Linked DNA regions of Homo sapiens. The protein of the gene in region 2 purifies or fractionates together with the protein of the main gene of each other region. This does not show direct contact. Each region holds a gene or a part of one and is shown on either strand. Other genes may lie near its edges.

Region 1 (7,700 bases), on a different chromosome or scaffold from region 2:
TAATTCATTTATAGGGATCCATAATAGAAATAATAAAATGTACAACAGAAATGTTCCAAAAACACTCAATGCTGCACTATAGTAATAACACAAAATAAAAAACACTATAAATGCCCATAAAGAGTGAAACAGTTAAATAAATTACATACCCATCCAATGCAGACATTACAAGAGTAAGGAAGGAAGACCTCTCTATATATGGTTGAGCATCCCTAATCTGAAAATCCAATATGCTCCAAAATCCAAAACTTCATGAGTGCCAACACAACACTCAAAGGAAACACTCAGTGGAGCATTTTGGACTTCTGGATGTGGGGTGCTAACCAGTAAGTACATGTAATGCAAATGTTCCAAAATCCAAAAACATCTAAGAATGGAAACACTTCTGCTCCTAAGCATTTTGGGTAAGAGATACTCAACTTGTACTAACATAGAGATCTGTGATAGGGAGGAAAAAGGAAAATATTAAGTATTCTAAGTTATATCATTTATATATATGTATATAACGGATCTGCATAAATCTTTGGTGTTATTGGTGCATATAGAAAAGGGCCTGGAAATATACACAACAAACTATCATCAGTGATTACTTCTGATGAATGGATGGAGAAGGAACACCCTAACTTTTAACTTTATATGTTTTAACTTTTTAACGATAATCATGCATACCTTTTATACCTAATAAGGGAAAAGCCATATACATTAATTAGAGGGAGGCTATACTCTCAGAAACATTTCTTTATCAGACTGCTATGTACTTGCTATTACAATAGAAGATTCAAGAGTCTAAACCCCAGATGCATCAAAACAAGGAAACTGTTTTTTTAAAGATTTTTTGTTTTTTCAATTCATCATAATAATTGAAGAAGCCACCACATATGGGCAGAAACTTAACAAATGGTCTCAGTGATATAACCAAGGTCTTGCTGATAAGACATGAGATGTGATCATTCTTACTTATATTGATTAATAACTCTTATAAAGAGATAAACTATAATTGTAAAAATATGTCACACATCCGGCTGGGCGCAGAGGCTCACGCCTGTAATCCTAGCACTTTGGGAGGTCGAGTGGGCGGATCACGAGGTCAGGAGATTGAGACCATCCTGGCTAACATGGTGAAACTCCATCTTTACTAAAAAATACAAAAAGTAGCCAGGCGTGGTGGTGCACGCCAGCTACTCGGGAGGCTGAGGCAGGAGAATGGCGTGAACCCGGGAGGTGGAGCTTGCAGTGAGTCGAGATCGTGCCACTGCACTCCAGCCTGGGCGACAGAGGGAGACTCCATCTCAAAAAATAAAAATAAAAATAAAAGTCATACATCCAATTTCCTATCCAGGGTTCAGTAAACTACAGTGTACAGACCAAATCTGGGCCACCTCTTGTTTTTGAAAATAAAGTTTTTACTGAAACATAGTCATGCTCGTTTCTTTCCATAATGCCTGTAGCTGCTTTTCCACTATAGCAGAACTGAATAGATGTTGCAGAGACGTATGGCCTGCAAAGGCTAAAACATCTACTATCTGGCCCTTTACAGAAAAAGTTTGTCAACCCTTGTTAATCCATGTAATTGAATGAAAAACTAGGAGAGTATGTCCTGAAGGTATTAAGGCAGGATCAAATATTTTTTTTTTAATCCTTGTGATCTTCTGGAGTTAAGATACGTAAAAGAAATTAATATACATTAATGTAATTAATACTATATGTCTACGCTTAAGTTGTAAGTTCACTGCTTCCCGAGTTAACTATATTGGTCCTTCAGAGAACTGAGATTTATTCTTTTAAAAATGTAACATCTGGTCCTTTCAGTTAAACAATTGTCACTTATCTATGGTACCAACTTTGACATGAAAAAACATTACTAACCACAATCAAATCCTGACCTCAATTTTTTTTTTTTTTTTTTTTTGACAGAGTCTCTCTCTGTAACCCAGGCTGGAGTGCAGTGGCTTCATCATAGTTCATTGCAGCCTCAAACTCCCAGGCTCAAGCGATCCTCCTACCTCAGCCTCCCGAGTAGCTGGGACTACAGGAGTGCACCACCATACCTAATTTTTAAATTTTTTGTAGAGCCAAGGTCTCACTATGTTGCTTAGGCTGGTCTCCAACTCCTGGGCTCAAGTGATTCCTCCTGCCTTGGCCTCCCAAAGTTCTGGCATTATAGGCATGAACCACTGCGCCCAGGCGTTAATTCTGATCTTAGAGAAGAAAACTGTCTTGTCCAATCTAAAACCAAAGTTTCAAAGTGTGCTAGAAAGATCTGCAAATCATTGTAAAATCTAGTGAGAATAAAGGCCTGGCAACTTTTGGCCATTCACTTTCGGATTTTCCAATCTTCAATCAGGATTGTGAGATATATAAGATATGCATTTTATTCACAAAGTATAAGAAAGTGAACACCATTAACCATTTAAAAGAAATCCCACCTCCAATTCCAAAGGACTGCTACAAATATCTAGAAACAGAACAAACCACTATTATAATAATTAATGCTTCTAAAGATAGTTCTTATTGAATTTTAACTCTTCTCAGATAGTTCATGCAGTTGAAAAGTTTCATTGTGTTTTTAGTCTCCCTTTTTTCCTCAGCGAGACATTAATTCTACTTAGTAAACAGATTCCAGCTAGGTTTATTTTTTTTTCAACCAATAAAAACCTCAAGTCCTTATATCAACTGCCATGAAAAAAACAACAATAGTACCCCATTATCTGTGATTTCACTTTCCATGGTTTCAGTTTCCCATAGTCAACCATGGCCCCAAAATGGGTGAATATAGTACAATAAGATATTTTGAGAGGAAGACCACATTCACATAACTTTTATTATATTATATTGCTATAATTGTTCTATTTTACTATTGTTGTTAATCTCTTACTGTGCCTAATTTACAAATTGAACTTATGCATGCATAGGAAAAAACAGTACTATATATAGGGTTCAGTACTATCTGTGGTTTCAGGCATCCACTGGGGGTCTTGGAACATATCTTCTGCAGATAAGGGGCGACTACTCCACCTCCTGGCTCCATGATGGTCATCATCTTTTTCAAAAAACTTGTTATTCATTCATTTATTCATTCATTAATTCACTTAAGAGATGAAGTCTTGCTTTGTCACCCAGGCTGGAGTGCAGTGGCACGACCATAGCTCATTGCAGCTTTGACCTACTGGGCTCAAGCAATCTCCCTGCCTTAGACTCCTGAATAGCTGGGCCTACAGGCATGTGCCACCATGCCTGGCTAATTTTTTCTTAATTTTATTTTTTGTAGAGACAGGGTCTCGCTATGTTGTCCAGGCTGGTCTCAGACTGTTGGTGTCAAACTATCCTCCCTCCTCTGACTCCCAAAGTGCTGGGATTATAGGTGTGAGCCGCTGTGCCTGGCCTAAATTTGTTATTAAAGTAAAATATAACATATTGAAAAGCACCTTCTGGTATGCAACCAAAGTCCACTTACAATTGTATATTCTCTTCCAGTGACTGCTTTGCTTATTTTAGTTATTGTTTTATGAGTTTTCCTATCTACATTAAAGATTTTGAATTAATTCATTCCTAACTTTTACTTGCCATTTTTCTTCACATTACCTCTAACTATCACACTCTTGAGTAAAATTGTTAATCTCTTGACAAGTTTATATTTCTTTATTCCTTGGATTATAGTTTTATACACATTCATAAAAATATTTAATATTATTTCTGTATCCTCCAAAGTTCATTTTCCTAAAAGTAGGGACACTGCCTTTTTGTTCTTATTTACTGTGTCATCTCAAGCTGGAAGGTTTACTTACTTTTTTCGTAGCTCTCTTTGACACTTTAGGAATTTCAATTTGTCGAAGATTCTGTGAAACCTCAGCAATGCTTTTATGTCTTATTAATGCATTTTTCCTTTTAAAAATAGAAATAGTTAATACATACTAGATAGAGGTTATATATAGTTAAATTCAAATGGAACTGGAGTCTAAGTAAAATAAAATATGATTTAAATAAAAGCCAGTTATCTTAAGGTTGTTCTGGGTTTATAATAAAACAAGTCACCCCAGAATTTTCAAAAGTAACAAATTCAACCAGTTATGAACAACGAAAAGCATCAAGGGAAATTTAAAAAGCTGAAACTCTAAGCTTATTTCATAGAAGGCCTAGTTTCTGGAGACCTCATGTGGACAGTAAAGAAGACTTTGTGAAATAGGAAATAAACACTATACAGTCATGCAATGTTTCCTTCAATGACGAACTGCATATATGACAATGGTCCCATAGGTTATAATGGAGCCTATATAGAAACCTAATAAATGACACTTGATATTGGCATTACAGATCAAGTAGGGGAAATGACTGCTATTCAGTAACAATGCTGGAACATTAGCTTTTCCATATGAAAAAATATACATAAATGAAAAAATATATACTATCTAGGTTTTGGTAGGCACACTCTGATGTTAGTACAACAAAAATTGCCTAACAATGCATTTCTCAGGATGTATCCCTGTTGTTAAGCAAAACATGACTATATATTTCCTAGATAATATAAAGATTGTCAGATGCTCCTATTAGGAGCTCTAATAGTTGGCTTCTCTGATTCAGACATAAGGGCAGCTATTAGTTCAACAAATTATATGGACAAAGATGACTGGACTGTAGTTTAAACACATCTTTTATCAGAACTATAACAGTGCAAATAATTCCTTTGATTCTTTGACCTCTTACCTTCTCTTCTTGGCTGATCTGGTACGAAGTTCCTGCAGTTCATCAGATTCAGGGCTGCCTGACACTGATCTACGAGCACTTGACAAAAAAGGCACAGAAAGAAGTGGTGATTTGTTCTCTTGTGTCATGGAGTCATCACTGAAAAAATCTGTAGGAAGGACACCAGCCAGCTTCTGAGGAATCACAAACCCTAGGCTGTTGTAAAGATTTCCAAGTGTCTTTGGGATAGAGTCAATATACCTGTGGAACAGATTGATCGAATACGGAACAGTTACCATCTTACCCTCTCTATTCCCTCCCTCACCCAGCCTAAAAAGTAGTCCTTACAACTCCAAAATTCAGAGACAACACCATACATAGGTTTTGACAAAACAATTTTAAAGTTAAGTTAGTAACCATCAAACTTACAATCTCAAAATTTCCTCCAGAAACTCTGCTAGGTACGCTGAATCCTCAGTTAAACACACCATGCGCAGCAAATCTGTCACCTGAAGGAGATTTTAGAACGTTACTATATAGATGCCCTCTGCAGGGAAGCTGAAAGCATCTAGGGCGTATTTCAATGGCACGAAACTATATACTTGCCTCCTCCACTACTTGTTCCATATCATCTGTACTTTCATTTATTGAAGGGCATTGCAGACACATCTCCAAACGAAGAAATACCTGAAGCTGGCACCTTGAGAGAAAAAAATACTTGGTCATATCTACTTTGGATGTCACTAAACAAAAAGCTCCTTCCGTAAGCATAGATCTATTTATATAAGACACAACAACCAAAAAGGAGGAGAGCCAGTGCCTTTTCTAAAAACTGATGTAGTTATTAGATAAATAGGTGATTCAAGCTGCATATTATAACATAAAAAAGAATTGGCTACAAAAGCATCTTCATGCAGTTGGTAATCTTTTTTTTTTTTTTTTTTTTTTTCCTGAGACAGGGTCTTGCTCTGTTGCCCAGGCTAGAGTGCAGTACTGGGATCATAGCTCACAGTAGTCTTGAGCTCCTGGGCTCAAACAATCCTCCAGCTTCAGCATCCCAAGTAGCTAGGGCTACAGGTGTACACCACCATGCTCACCTAATTAAAAAAAATTTTTTGGTAGACACGGTCTCACTATATTGCCCAGGATGGCCTCAAATTCCTGGCTGCAAGCAATCCTCCTGCTTTGGCTTCCCAAGGTACTAGGATTACAGGCATGAGCCACCATGTCACGAACAATCTATTTTAAACTGATACGAGCTAATCTCACAGCTTTTAGAGTGATGATTTTTTAAAAAATGGTAGTTACTTACTCTCTAACTTTGTCTTCCTTATCCAGTTTTTTTCCTAGATTCTGTCGAAGACTTTTACTAGTTTTTAAGAGACTACTTTTTACTTGATTCAGGCAGTTCACCTAAAAATACAAAATTATTACATAGGAGAATAGTGTTACTTGTCATTATTTCTAATTTCTTTCACAGTTGACTAAAGGGAAATATATTCCCTTATAAACTTCTCTATTCTTTCATTTGAATGAAAAAGTGACGTGAATATTCTTCTTTTATATCTTTAAAAAGAACATGGTAAAAGTTATTTTGAGAGCTAGTGGGCATGGATAAAACAAGCCTGCCCTAAATAAAGTGTCTTAAAAGAAACGTTCCATAAAGCAGTGCTTAAGAAACCTAAGTATCATAAACAAATCCTCCTGTTTGCTTTAGAGAAGGAGCTCCGTGATGGCCACTGAACATGAATAAAACAACAACACGGTCTAAAACAGTGGTTTGCAACACTCCCAGTGCAAAAGGATTATCCAGGGGGCTTTTTAAAAGCGCCAACCCCAGAGATCTGTTTCAGTTCATCTGGAGAGAGCAAGGCATATATATATATTCTTTGGAGATGGAGTCTCGCTCCGTTGCCCAGGCTGAAGTGCAATGGTACGATCTTGCCTCACTGCAACCTCCACCTCCCAGGTTAAAACGATTCTCCTGCCTCAGCCTCCCGAGTAGCTGGGATTACAGGCACCTACCACCACATCCAGCTGATTTTTGTATTTTTAGTAGAGACGGGGTTTCACCATGTTGGCCAGGCTGGTCTCAAACTCCTGACCTCGTGATCCACCCACCCTGGCCTCCCAAAGTGCTGGTATTACAGGCGTGAGCCACCACGGTTAGTTGGCATATATATATTTTTTAAATGCTGTAAGTGATTCTAAAGTATAGCCAGGGTTAAAAACCACTGGCTTAATCATGCAGCTAACATATAGCTCACATGAGGAAAGGCTTTTCATTAGGAGAGAATTATATGTAATTATCCCCGCTCACCCCATCTCTTTGATTTCTGCCTTACCAGTTCACCATATCCACCTTCTGAGATCTGGAACTGTACTTACTCCCTTACTTATCTTACCATTTTTGAATCACATATGACATAACAGACATTTTCCAAGACACTAACCAAATCCACCACCAACCAACCAACCAACCACTACATCCATGACAAACAACAATATCTGGACCCTCTTACTTCTAATTCCTTGGTGCCTTTTGATTTTAGGAACATTTTAACGGTTGAGATCATGTTTCGAGCACATGCATACAACATGATTTCTCCTGTGGCCACAGTCTTTTGGTAATTTTCACGTATATATGATAGCAGCTCTTCCTCAGTTTTAAAATCTGAGAAAAAAATAAAATAAAATGGATTAATCATATCTTGCTCAAGTCCTTGTATTACTTAGGCCAGTTGTTGTCCACTGGGGAAAATATTTCCTTGCAGGGAACATTTGGCCTTGTCTGGATTGTCATGACTGATGGTGGTGGGGGCGGGGGTGGCTGCTGGCCATCTAGTATGTAGGAGCCAGGGATGCTGTTAAACATCCTACAATACATAGGACAGCCCTACAACGAAGAATTATCTGGTCTAAAATGTCAATAGTCCAGAGACTGAGAAACTACAGAGATAAGTGATTAATTTTATTTCATTTTATTTGAGACAAGGTCTTACTCTGACAATCAGGCTGGA
Region 2 (7,700 bases):
TATAAAGTATTTTGGCTTCAATTTTTCTATCTCCATCATTTAATAAATCTGGCAGCAAGTATACGCTCTCAGTATAAAAAATACTCAAACTTTTTTTTATGTCAAACAGGAACATTAGAACATGAACTAAATTTTGCCATTAGTAGAGAAGATACCGTACCTTTAGATAGAACTTAGAGATTTCAAAGAGACGCTGGCTGCATGCAGTGAAACATTCATGAGTCTCGGTAATACTGTGTTTCTTCAGGGTTTCAGTAACTACTTCTTTCAGTATCTTGAACAGAACATAACATATGACGAATATTTCTTGGAAAAGGCACAAACCTATTATTTCAGCTTTAGAGTTCAATCCTGTGAATTACACATTCATTTTGCTGTGCTAAAAGACAGACAGGTTCATTAAGACAAAATGATTGAGAAAAAAAAGATCTAACATTTACATGGTCAGAAGTGTCACAGGAATAATATGTTAGCAGGAAATGACTACAGTGTCTTAAGAAAGGAACTCAAATCATGAGTTCTGAATTGAAATCTGAGTGTTAAAGTTACACACAGCAGGGATATGTAAGTGTATATTTATTTTTTATTATGGGAAATTTCAAGCATAGAAAAGTAGAGAATATTTGACACGCACAGAATATTTTATAACAAATTTCTATCTTGATATATCTTTTAACCAGCTTCAAGTATGATTAATCTGTGGCTAATCTTGTTTCAATTATATCCCCACCTACTTTCCTATCATCCTTCTTACACCAGTAAATTCTAGACATCGTTTCATTTCATTCATAAAATTTTTTAGACATATATTTTAAAGTAATCAAATTTAAAAAGTCTTCCTATGTAGAACTAAGAAAAATGGGAAATAAATCTTTACCCGTGTGTGTTTCTGTGATCTTGATTCCTTAATTTGCCTTGATGTTTTTGATTCATGCATACTTTTTTGACCTGAACTGGTCTTTGTAGCAAGTTTTGGAGTTTCACAGCTAGGAATTGGAACCAATGGACAAGTCACTGGTAAGGACCGTTCTGTTTGTGGCTTTCTGGATGTCACATGATGATGATAGTGATTACTATTACCAGTTGTCTGAGAAAGAAGAGACTCTGAACTTTCAGATTTCACAAGTCTATATAGCAGGGGAAAAAAATCAAGAACGTAGATTAAGCGAATCAACATCGAAGTTCATTTTCTGTCTTAAATATTACAACTATATCCATTAAGTGAATCAACATCGAAGTTCATTTTCTGTCTTACCAGTGTGTTACCACTATATTATACCACTGTTATTACATAATAGATAATATATAACATAATATATTACATAATATATAACACTATACCACTATGTTATAGTGTTACCACTATATCCATTATAACATAAATTCAAGAAAAGCAAACAAAATTTATTGCTATTACTGCCTTAAGTAAGCAATAAACATCATATTATAAAGTTGTTCCTTAGTTCTTCAGATGAGTAACTAACACATAGAAGGTAATGAATAGCAAACTAGGATTTTGGCTAATAGAGAAAGCAACAAACAATATTGTTATACTCTCTCCCATCCCTCCAATTTACAATTTCTCAAATAAATCAGCTATGCATGCCAAGAGTGCTGCTATTTATAGATTTAATACTAATCTGTTAAATATTTATACTTTTCTGTTAAGATAATTTGAACAGAAACACCACAACCTGTATCTTTTTATACCCATGGAACTCCCTTGCAAAATAAGTCATAGTGTTAAAACAAATACAAATAAACTATAAAACTGGTTCATACTTCAATCTTCCTAAAATGTTTACATTTGTTCCTGACAAGGCCCAAATTTTTCCCTTTACAAGATAGGGTCTTATAGCCCTCAATTCTGCTGACCCAGAAGCCACAGTATACATTCCTTTTAGGAACACATATATTTTTATTAGCCATAGGTCAGAAATAAGAAATATGGCTATAAATATAGTACCCCAAATGTAACTGCTGCTTTTTAATTTTATCAGGTATAAAAAGTACCATGAATTTATAAAGTCCTCATAAAAATGACTGAGTTCTTCCATATCAGGGTAACCTTATTCTAACTTTCTTAACTATTCAAAAAAAGATCTGAAAGTTATGTTTTCATATAGTTCATACTTTTTGCAAGGTTTAAATACAATAAGAATTCAAGCCTTGCTTTAGATGCCAAGAACCTAAGTTTGACAAAGGTTCTAAAGATAACATAAATTCAATAAAAATTAGTGTTCACTACATAAACTTCTAACTTCTGATCAAGTATCTGGATATTTCATTTAGTTAGCAAACTAACGCATCCAGAAAAGTTTCATATATTCTATCATTATGCAGTGTTTAAAGCTATATTTTATATGTAACAGGTGTTTTAAAAATGGTACCTCATGGAATCTCTTGCTCAAGGGAACAATGCAGGCAGGAAACTGAGGGGAAAGGAAAGGAAGAGCTAATGGGAGAACTCCCATCCCCAAACAGTCTCTTCAACAGGGCAGCTCAGCAGCTTAATCTATGGGGTGAAATCTCCACTGTTCCATGGCTTAAAAACTTTACAATCCATTGTGCTAATGGACTGTATATTAGCATATAAAGCAAGAAACTGTGTTTTTTTCCCAAATCATTTATTTTTATAACTTATAAGCAAAATTATCAACAGCTCATAAAACAAACTTCTTGCCATGAAGAAATTAACCTGAAAGACTAATATAAAATAAAATAAAAATCCTCGAGACTAAAATACTTTCTGTCAATATACTATTTATGTGCATGTAATATATCACCTTTTTCTGGGATAAAGGCAATTCAGATCTTTAGATCTCCGTTTCAATCGGGATACTTCAGTTCGAAGTTCATTTTGTAAAACTTCTCCGTCAGGGACACTTCCAGGATCTGACGAAACTACAGGAGATGGAAGAGGGCTCAACACAGTAGGTACTGGAAAACTTTCTCTGGTGCAGGTAGTTTGAGTTTCATAACGAATAAGACGAGACTGAAGTTCAGAAAATCCTCCATCTCTTTCCAAAGCTTTTCGGTCATCCAAGCAATATCTAAAATGAGTGAAAGAGCATTAAAATGTAAACCTCCATGAGAGCAACAGACTTTCCCCTTTCAATGAGAAAATAGCAGGACATTTACTTTAAGAGTTCTTGTTTAATTTCCTAATAATTGCTGGAAGGTTGAGTGGCTGGCCTATTTCCCTCCCAAGTTCAGTTTTCTTCTAGTTTGCTATATGATATGGCAAAAGATTAAAAAATGTCTTTCACTTGTGTTTCTCTTTCACTTGTGTTTCTGGGCAACAGATTAAGTTAATCCTTTGGCTTATTTTCAAAATAATACAGTTGCTGTTTTAATGCTTTTTAAAACTCTACCAACCCCTGATTTCTCAGTATGGCTGATATATGACAACATGAACTGCTGACTTCTGTTAGAAAGGGCAAGTTTATTCTCAACACAAAGATTAAAAGGGTATAAAGGCATTCTAAACTGGCTCACCAAACAGCTTAGAACATTTAGAATTTTTTCTTTGAAACTCAGTTCCCACCTTATTAACTAATTGACAGATTTTCCTTCAAACACTTCGGCTGTCTGTGCATGTGGTTTCTAGCTGAATCTGATTCAGGGCATCAATGAAATGTCAGCTCAGTGAATGCTTCTGGACTCAAAGAAATCCTAGGTTGTTAAGTACAACAAACAAGGATATCAGGAAGATCACCTAGGAGCTGTGTGACCTTGGACAACTCTTCACTTTCTTCCTTATCTACAACAGCATTAAAAAAACACAAATGGCTTCACATATGTGATGGTAGCACTGTACAAATTAAAACCTTTCTCTGTGACCTGTCATTTTTACCTGCAAAATTCTAAGATACTGCCTAAAATCAGATTTTTGTATCCAAAAGATTTAGTTCAACTCCCAAGGAGTGTTATCATTTCCTGAACATCTGACTGCTTGATGGAGGTTTTAAGAACCTTATCTTTCCCTTGTGACACTTACATATTTGATACAGACTTACGGAGTCAGAGTCCATGGATTTAAATCCAGGCTCCTCTACTTATTAGCTGTGAGAACTTGGCCAAATTACTTAATTTTATCTATGATTCTGTTGCTTCATCTGCAAAATGAGAATTATAGTACTTATCTGAAAAAGCTATTGTGATAATTTCTTGAATTGTACACATAAACACTTAGAATCAGTGCCTGAAACATGCAAACAGGGCAGTCAAGAAATGTATGTTACTATTATTGTTATCATCATCATTAGATTTATTTTCTACCACAGTAAAGCTGGCAGTATGCTGACAATATGTAGCACAGCCAGAATGTAAACCCAGGTTGGTGACTTCAGAGCCTGACTTTAACCATTTTGGTATACTATCTCTATGTAAAGTGTAAGAATCATCTTACTCCTGTTCAACACATGGCTGAGCATTAGAACCATCTGAAGAGCTTTCAAGAAATACTACTTGCTCAGTGTTTCTGATTTAATTGGTCTAGGGTAATACTCTGTCTTTGACAGTTTTAAAAATCTGCCTGGGTGATTCTTAAAAAACTACTCAAATCCATAGAAACAGAGTAGAATAGTGGTTATGGGGATGGGGAAGGTTATGGAAAGATGTAGATTAAAGGGTACAAAGTTGCAGAGTTATGTAGGATGAATAAATCTAGAAATCTAGCATACAGTACAAGGACTATAGTTAATCATATGTACTGTATATTGAAAATTTGCTAAGAGACTAGACTTTGGGTGCTCTTGGCACACAAAACAAGAGGTAACTATGTGAGATGATGGTTATGTTAGTTTGCCTGGCTACAGTGATCATTTCACTATACATACGTACATCAAAACATCTTATTATATTAAAATTAATTATATTTAAATATTAAAAATACACACTTTTTAAAAAGTCTACTTAGATGATTCTAAATTATAACTAGGACTGAAAAATCTCTGATCTACTCAGTTTAATTTAACCGGTGACAAAATTGATCTCTAAATCTGAATGTGAGTTGGTGGCAGAGTAGGGAGTAGAACCTAGGTCTTGGCATCTCTCTAGCTAATATTCTTTCTCTAGTCTGTTGCTTAAGAAACATATTTCATTAAAAACCAGAAGCAACCCTAAGGGTTACTGATGAGTCCGACTTCTATCATGGGTAATTGGTAGAATCTAGAGTAAAATTGGAAATGTGAATTTCAAGAGTCTGGCAAGAGGCAATATAATGCCTGATGAGCTTGAATACAGAAAATTTTTGAGAGAAAAGATGCATATTTTGATTCTAAGATGAATATTTCTTTCTACCTTAAGATTTTATTTCTAAGATGCAGATTTTTTTCTTCCGGTTTTAACATCTCTTGATCACAGCTGTTCATAGTGTCATAGCTTCAACTGAATTATGCACACTGTACATGTTGATGTTAATTGCCATTTAAAATATCTTTAAAATGATTATACTATGATTTGCCATCGGAACAAAAATTTACTTTGTAAATTAGAGAAAAGAAACAGAGAGGCAAGGGGCAGGGTGTATATTTGATATTAGTGAAGTAAAAATTTATTGTTGGATGAATGACCACAATTCCATATTTTCTTACAAAACAATAAGCAAATGCTTTATGGGTCCTAACAAAGAAAAACACCCATAAGACAATGAAGCTGTTTTTGTTTTGTAACTAAGAAATACACAAAATACTGCCTATCACAAACCAACCAATACCAATTAAGGCAGAAGGAACTGCCAAATCTCTTGGAATAGATGAAGGAAGTTTCAAAGCAATGAGAGCCTGGTGTGATCAAATGATTGTCAGAGTATGACAGCAGAGTTTAATTAGCTGTTTAATAAAACAGTGTATTTTACAATTAATGGCATCTTAAATTCCAGGATAGGGTAAATAAGTGAAAAAACAAACAAGCCAACAGTGGTTAATATTTTAACTTGCCTTAAAAAACATTGTTTTGCTCCCATGCCATTAACACATTCTTTCCAAATATTCCTTTGTATCAGAGAAAGAGCTCCAGGGTTCTAAAGGCCCACAATAACGTAAGAGAACTTTCTTTGTAGTTTCATATTTACTTTAAAATGTTACTTGACTTTGTTTCTACACCATAATCTATGTTGAACATAAATCGGTTCTCATACTATACACCCAAATCTTCTTGAAAAAAACATGTTTCTGAATTCATGGTGCTCACCTCCTACAACTTTGTCAGCCTAGTCTCAATGTCCCCAGTTTAATGAGCATAAATTTACAGTAAAAAAAAGTGAGTCACAGATAGATTTGTTTATTTGTTTATGGGAGTAGGTAGGTAGTGGAGAAGAGAAATACTTTTTACAGTGAATCAGAATTTCATAACATTGTATGTGTATAAGTTAATAAAGCTCTGTGTAGATTTAAGCCCTTCAGGACACAGTACTCAAATAAATCTTAATTTAATATTTTGATAAATGATCATGAAGAACATATCCTTGACAAATTTTATAAATTTGTATATATCAAGATTTCTTCTATAGTAAATTAAAAACAGCAGAAAAAAAAGAGTAGCGAGATGGAGACACAGAATAAACAAAACTAAATTAAAATTTTGGGAGAAATAATCTAAATAAGATTATATGATGGACACTTTAGTCAGCAGTTAAAATGTAATTATTGTAGCTTATTTTATTCAAATCAGTGCTTCAGTGTGTTTATAGGGCTGAAGAAGAGAAAAACAGATGTGTCCTGGGGTATTCTGGCCATGTAGCAAAGCAAATGTTAATACTAGCACATTTTCTCAACAGTGAACGCTACTTTTCATAATAATAATATAAACACTGTTGACTGGTTTCAACTTTCACATTCAAATTAAATACAAAATACCTAAAATTTTTAATTAGTTTCCTTTAACAGATTAACAGATTAACAGGTCCTAAAATTCTTATCAAACAAAGTGGGGGAGATACTGCTTTATAGCTGATGGAATAAGAAGGAGAAGTTTAAATGTGTATATATTTAAAAACATGAAAGTAAATAGCGGAGAGCTCAACTTGAGAAGAAGAACCAAATCTTCATAGCAGAGTCAATATTTTATATTGTGACAGTTAAAAATATTGACATAAGGGTATTTTTTAAAATGAGAGATAACCACCAGGGAAACTAAACCAAACAAATAATATATATATTGTTTTTTTCTAAAAACTGGGATGCAGTTAGGTAGTAATAAGGAAAGGAATTGTTGGTTTTCATTATAAACTTTTCTATAATGTTTAATTTCTAAGTCTTTAATAAAATCAGAAGGGGGAAAACAGAAAAATATATCCTATTAATCAAATGTTTATATAGTAGAACAAGATGTTCCCACTTAAATTTAATGAACTTAGTATAAATGAAAAGTAAAATTTTGGGGTGGGTGCGGTGGCTCATGCCTGTAATCCCAGAACTTTTTGAGGCTGAGGCAGGTGGATCACCTGAGGTTAGGAGTTCAAGACCGCCTGGCCAACATGGCTAAACCCTGTCTCTACTAAAAATATAAAAATTAGCCAGGCGTGGTGGTGCATGCCTGTAATCCCAGTTACCTGGGAGGCTGAGGCATGAGAATCACTTGAACCCGGGAAACGGAGGTTGCAGTGAGCCAAGATTGTGCCACTGCACTCAGCCTGGGTGAAAAAGTGAGACTGTCTAGAAAAGAAAAAAGAGAAGTAAAATTTTGTAATCAATCCA

What was found. The genes of interacting proteins can lie anywhere in the genome.
Region 1: the proteins of MTBP (region 2) and TICRR purify together in Homo sapiens (affinity purification with western blotting; 2 studies listed by BioGRID). This does not show direct contact.

Annotation. Positions count from the first base shown.
Region 1 is NC_000015.10:89,598,978-89,606,677, reverse strand, and holds part of TICRR (treslin), read right to left. Parts: intron 7,355-7,700; coding exon 7,203-7,354; intron 6,094-7,202; coding exon 5,993-6,093; intron 5,381-5,992; coding exon 5,287-5,380; intron 5,190-5,286; coding exon 5,110-5,189; intron 4,942-5,109; coding exon 4,702-4,941; intron 3,883-4,701; coding exon 3,786-3,882; intron 1-3,785.
Region 2 is NC_000008.11:120,511,278-120,518,977, reverse strand, and holds part of MTBP (mdm2-binding protein), read right to left. Parts: intron 3,764-7,700; coding exon of another isoform or gene 3,760-3,763; exon of another isoform or gene 3,742-3,759; intron 3,676-3,741; exon of another isoform or gene 3,548-3,675; intron 3,054-3,547; coding exon 2,787-3,053; intron 1,128-2,786; coding exon 878-1,127; intron 275-877; coding exon 161-274; intron 1-160. UniProt on the Homo sapiens protein: Inhibits cell migration in vitro and suppresses the invasive behavior of tumor cells. May play a role in MDM2-dependent p53/TP53 homeostasis in unstressed cells. Inhibits autoubiquitination of MDM2, thereby enhancing MDM2 stability.